Linked DNA regions of Homo sapiens: region 2 is linked to region 1. A link means that fine-mapping ties the variant in region 1 to the expression of a gene that starts in the linked region. Tissue or cell type: blood mononuclear cells. Region 1 holds a variant in brackets; the other region holds the start of a gene. All regions are shown on one strand. Distances are between the middles of the regions.

The links. PIP is the estimated chance that this variant, and not a neighbour inherited with it, causes the effect.
Region 2: RTP5 starts here. The variant in region 1 is fine-mapped to the expression of RTP5 in blood mononuclear cells (TOPMed, PIP 0.97). The same link has a PIP of 0.9 or more in whole blood.

Annotation. Positions count from the first base shown.
Region 1 is chr2:241,761,568-241,764,184 of GRCh38, forward strand. All of the region lies in intron 9 of D2HGDH (D-2-hydroxyglutarate dehydrogenase), which reads left to right. Among named protein-coding and RNA genes, the nearest start is that of GAL3ST2, 14 kb to the right of the region's middle. The variant G/A (reference allele first, on the strand shown) is at 1,361.
Region 2 is chr2:241,868,391-241,871,015 of GRCh38, forward strand. It overlaps RTP5 (receptor transporter protein 5 (putative)), which reads left to right and starts at 1,339. Exons shown (of 2, transcript NM_173821.3): 1 at 1,339-1,524. The coding sequence starts at 1,367.

The DNA.
Region 1 (2,617 bases):
GTAGTTTATATGCAAATCCTATGCCATTTCCTGTCAGAGACTCGAGCATCTCAGGATTTTGATATCCGAGGGGTCCTGTATCCAGTCCCCCAGGGACACTGAGGGGCACCTGCATGCTGTTCGGTGGTGTATTCTGGTTCTGCCTTGTTCAGTCACACATAACCCTGTCACCATGTCACCATCCTGATTCTGCGTAGCCAGTTTGCACACAGCTTCTGCTTGAATCTCAGCCTCCAGAATTTTCCCTGGCATGGAAAAATAGGTGACGGAACAGCTCAGATTTTCTTTGTCTGGAAATGTACTGATTTAGTTGATAAAAATGTCTTTTCCTCAGTGGATTTCCGTGGTTCTGGGTTGACAGTTGCTTCCCAGCAGCAGGAGGGAGTCTCTGTTCTCTCTTCTGATGTCTGCTGGTGCGGAGACAGCCTCAGTTCAGGGCAGTTCCCTTCGGGGGAATGGAGGGAACAGAGGGAAATAAATAATTTCTTTCTTTTTCTTTTCCTTTTTTTTTTTTTTTTTTTTGAGATGGAGTCCCGCTCTGTCACCCAGGCTGGAGTGCAGTGGTGCGATCTTGGCTCACTGCAACGTCCGCCTCCCGGGTTCAGGCGATTCTCCTGCCTCAGCCTCCCGAGCAGCTGGGATTACAGGCGTGTGCCACCACACCCGGCTAATTTTTGCATTTTTAGTAGAGATGGGGTTTCACCATATTGGCCAGGCTGGTCTCGAACTCCTGACCTCGTGATCCACCCGCCTCAGTCTCCCAAAGTGCTGAGATTGCAGGTGTGAGCCACCGCGCCCAGCCTGCTTTTTCCTTTTTGCTGCTTTCAGCTCCTTCCATTGTCTTTGGGGTTCTGCGGTTTCACTCTGGTTTGGCCGGGAGTCGGCCAGATGAGTGTTTGTTTACCTGCCTGTTGGCCGGGTGAGTGTTTACCTGCCTGGCACTTCTTGGGCTTTGGGGTCTTGCTGGCTTTAGAAATTCCTCAGCCACCAGAGCCTCTTCAAACACCGTTTCTCCCCTTCCTCTGTTCTCCTCTTGGAACTCAGTCCAAGCCCCCTTGTTTCTTATCGGCTGCTGCCAGGGTCCCGCCTCTCAGGTTTGGATGCTATTTGCAGTGTCTCCAGCTTGGCGTTCTCTGCCGTGTGTGATCGGCCGTCAGATCTGTCTGCTAAGGTCCACAGGCCAGCCATGATGCATTTCATCTCCGGAAGATTGGCGTGGATATTTAAAAATTGCTTGGTCAGATTTTTTGGTTTTATATTTTTGTCTCTTATTTCTTTACACATGACACGTTTGTGTTCTGTGTCTGGAAATGACAGCGTCTGAGGTGTTTGTGGGTCTGATTCTGACCTTAGCCGTGGT[G/A]GTTTGTCTTCTTGTGTGTGTGATTTTTGGCATGAGCTCATATTCGTTAGATTTTTATCTGTAGGAATTATTTGAGGCCTGCAGGGGAGGTGGTTTGCTTCTGCAGTGGGTGGGGAGGGTGAGGGCCTGGGGCCCCGCCCGGAACCTCTTTAATCTCCACATTCTCAGCCTTTGGGACCCGAGGCAGCGTGAGTTCCGGGTGCAGGCCGCCGTTGCTCGGGAATACAGTTGGGTGTTGCTGAATGATGGGGATGCGTCCTGAGAAATGTGTCATTAGGTGGTTTCGTTTTGTGTGAGCATCACGGAGGGCACTCACACCCAGATGGGACAGCCTCTTCCACACCAAGGCTGTGTGGTGTAGCCATTGCCCCTAGGTGACAAACCACAGCTGTCATCCACTTAATGCCGGAAGCAGTTGTGACATAATGCTGAGTATGTGCCTGAACACAAAAGCTAATCCTAGAAAAGGGACCGTAAAAGTATGGTATAAAAGGTAAAAATGCCACACCTGCCTGGGGTGCCCATCACGAGTGGGTCTCGCGGGACTGGAGGTTGCTCTGGCGAGGCAGTGGGTGAGCGTGAGGGGTTGCGAAGGCCTAGGAGATGACCGTACTCTACTCTAGACTTTATAAATGCTGCACACTGAGGCCACACTAAACTGATATTAACAAGTAATTGTGCTACAACATGGTGACATCGTCATTAAGGTGATGGCAGTTTTTCAGCTCCATTTTAATGTTATGGGGCCAGCATCATCTCTGTGGTCCGGGGTTGGGTGAAACGTTGTTATGAAGCGTGACTGTATTCACATACTTTGTGGACGCCAGGCACGTGGCTCACACCTGTAATCTCAGCGCTTTGGGAAGCTGAGGTGGGAGGACTGCTTGAGGTCAGGAGTTCAAGACCAGCCTGGGCAACATGGTGAGACCGGCCCCCCACCCCCGACCACCCGCCGTTTCTACAAAAAAAATAATCAGCCAGGCATGGTGGTACATGCCTGCAGTCCCAGCTACTCAGGAGGCAGAGGTGGGAGGACTGACTGAGCACAGGAGGTTGAAGTGTGAGCCACGATCACTCTACTGCCCTCCGGCCTGGGTGACAGAGGGAGACCCTGTCTCAAAAAAACAAAACCAAATGAACATATTCTGTGGATGTGGTTTTTCTTCTTTCACAACCAGTCCTTCCTGGGCAAGTCCCCGGGCAGGGGATGTGTTCAGCCCTCTCTGGCCTGAGCACGCATCCGTGGGGACTGTGGGA
Region 2 (2,625 bases), 110 kb after region 1:
GCTGGGATGAGAAACGCGGGGCTTTCCCTGGCAGTCTGGCCCTGTATGGAGGCCCCTTCCCAGAGTGCGTCCCACTGGCTTCCTCTTCTATCTTGCAGTCACACCTAGCTGCAAGGCGGGAAGATGTCACAGGTTTGAAAGGGCCGAAAAGAAGGTTCAGAAATGAAAACTATGACAAGGCGCTTGCCAGCATTAGCTGCAGAGTCGACAGAGACGAGGAGATAATGTGTGAAGTGGTAGAAAAATGAGAAGAGATTGTTCAGTGTGCAGGGCAGAGAGATGGCGAGATGGGAGCTGTGAGGAGAGCCGGGTGGCCGGGAGCCTCCCGGGGGCAGATCTGTGCTGAGGTTTTGCAGGGATCAGCTGGCTGTCTCCGCCCCTGCACGTCCCGGCTCCTTCTCAGCTCACCCTTTCTTGTTGTGCCATGACAGGTGGCTGCCACGCACAGCAATGCTGTTGAATCTCAGAAATTAAACAACCTGAAAAGGCGTGAGAAGCTGGGCACATGCATGAATTGTTTATGTAAAGCTCAGAAGCTGCACAGCTAAAGGGCTCGGTGAGGGAGGCATCATAGGTGTTGAAGCCTCAACGTTGTCTGTGCAGGCACGGCCAGGCTGGTGGCACCTCTGCCAGGAGGGCAGGGGGTGGGGGTGGGGCCGCGGGCTGAGATCGGGAGGGAACAGGCAGCCAGCTCTGGAGGCTGGCAGAGCGAGGTTTTGTTTCTTCCTATAGGACGTGGTGACTTAAGACTTTAGAATAATTTGTGAAGCTCTGCATTTATGTTTTAGGCATTTTATGTAAATATTTTATATTTCTCACTAGTAAAAAGTTTAAGAGAATACACCCACGGGACAATCTGCAATGATACACGTTCTATAAAGTTCTTCTCAGCTTTGTTTGTGTGAAAAGCATTAGTGCTGTTTGCAGAGAGAAGCTGAGTGAATAAGTTACATGATAGCCACAAGCTGGAAAAATACCAAGTGTTCAGCAAGGGATGAGTGTGGGCCACCGCTCCTGATGTGCACTAGAAAGAGAGGGCTGTGGATGATTCCTTGGTGCGATGTGTGAAAACACCCGGGCCTCTACACGCACGGGTCTGGGGAGGCCCCTGCGTGTCCACGGGCCCACGCCCACCACCACCACCACGGTGCTGCCACAGGGATGCTCTCTGGGGGGCGGGGTCATGGGAGATTGCATTGTATTGTATTTTTCCTTTCTGCTTCCCATTTCTCGGAGACAAATCTGGTTGCCATGGAGACCATGCTGTTGTCAAGGTGGCTGATTGGCCGGCGCGGGATGCGGGGACGTTTCCTTGGGCCCCCGGCGGGCGCAGCCCTCAGCCCACACTGCGGAGCCAGGCGGCAGCATGGACCGGGCTGGGGCAGACATGTGGGCCAGCACCTTCACCCTGGCCATGGCCGAGAGGAAGCCCCAGGACGTCTGGGTTCTGCTACCTGAGCACAGCCTGGTCCCGGGATGCCTGGACGGCGGTGGTGTCCAGTACCTGCTGGTGGGGCTCTCGAGGTGCGGCCAGAGGTTGGGGACCCTGGGAGAGGCAGGGGGCTGAAGGTGCTTTTCCACGGGACCTTGGGTGGTCCCAGAGGCTGGGTGGGGCTGTTGGGCCTCGTCTTGTCCCCGAGACGGGAGGGTGGGGCTGGGTGCTCCTTCTCCCGCCGGAGCCCCTGCCTCGCCATGCTGGGCACACGGCTGCTGACGCAGGGGTCCCGGGGAAGACATGGCGGGTGCCTCATGGAGAGTTTGGTTTCCCTCACTCGGCTCCTTGGGCCAGCGCTGCCCTTGGACACAGGCTCATCTCCTGCTTCCATGGCACTGCCGTGGTCTCGCAGCCATCAGTGCTGACAGGTGGGCCCTGGGGCGTGCCGGAGCCTGTGGTCACCATCCGGCCCTGTGTTGCACACAGCGGGGTGCTCGGCCCTGATCGGGGGCCCGGGGTGGCTGTGGGTCACAAGTGAGCCTCACAGGCCGTCATCACGGTTGTGGTGCCGTCAGCGCAGCAGGGCGGGCGCCATGCGCTTCTCCAACTGGCAAGGCATCCACAGCTCGGCCGGGTGCCAGCTGGGAGGGGCGCGGGGCAGCTCCACATCCTCGCAGATGCCCGGCCTGACAGGCCCCCAGGCTGCTGGCTGGTCCGTCCCTCTGTGGAGACACCCTGGGCAAAGGGGGAGTCGTCCTGCCCTTTGACACAGCTCCTCAGTGCCTGAGACCCCTGGGGCCAGGTGTGTGCAGAATCCCAGCTTTTTCAGAAGCTGGGAAAGTAATAACCCGTGTTGGGGTCTGAGAAGTGCTGGGAAGCACATCACTGTTCCCACAGCCAGGTGGAGATGGCTCTGAGCGGCTCCCAGCTGGCGGGAGAGAACTGAGGACGGCTGCCCCAACATGCAGCCCCAGCGCCCGTGGCTTTGGCTCCTCAGTCCCATTTAAATAAAGTCAGCAGTTCAGTTCCTCCAGCACGAACGTGTCCACGGGCTCTGTGGCCAGTGTGGTTGGAGGCTGCAGGCAGGGCAGTGTGGCTATAGAACATTCTGTCATCCAGAAACTTCCACTGCCTGGAACTGAATCATAGCCTCTCACTCATGCAGGGTTCCCTGAAGCTCACAGCTGCTT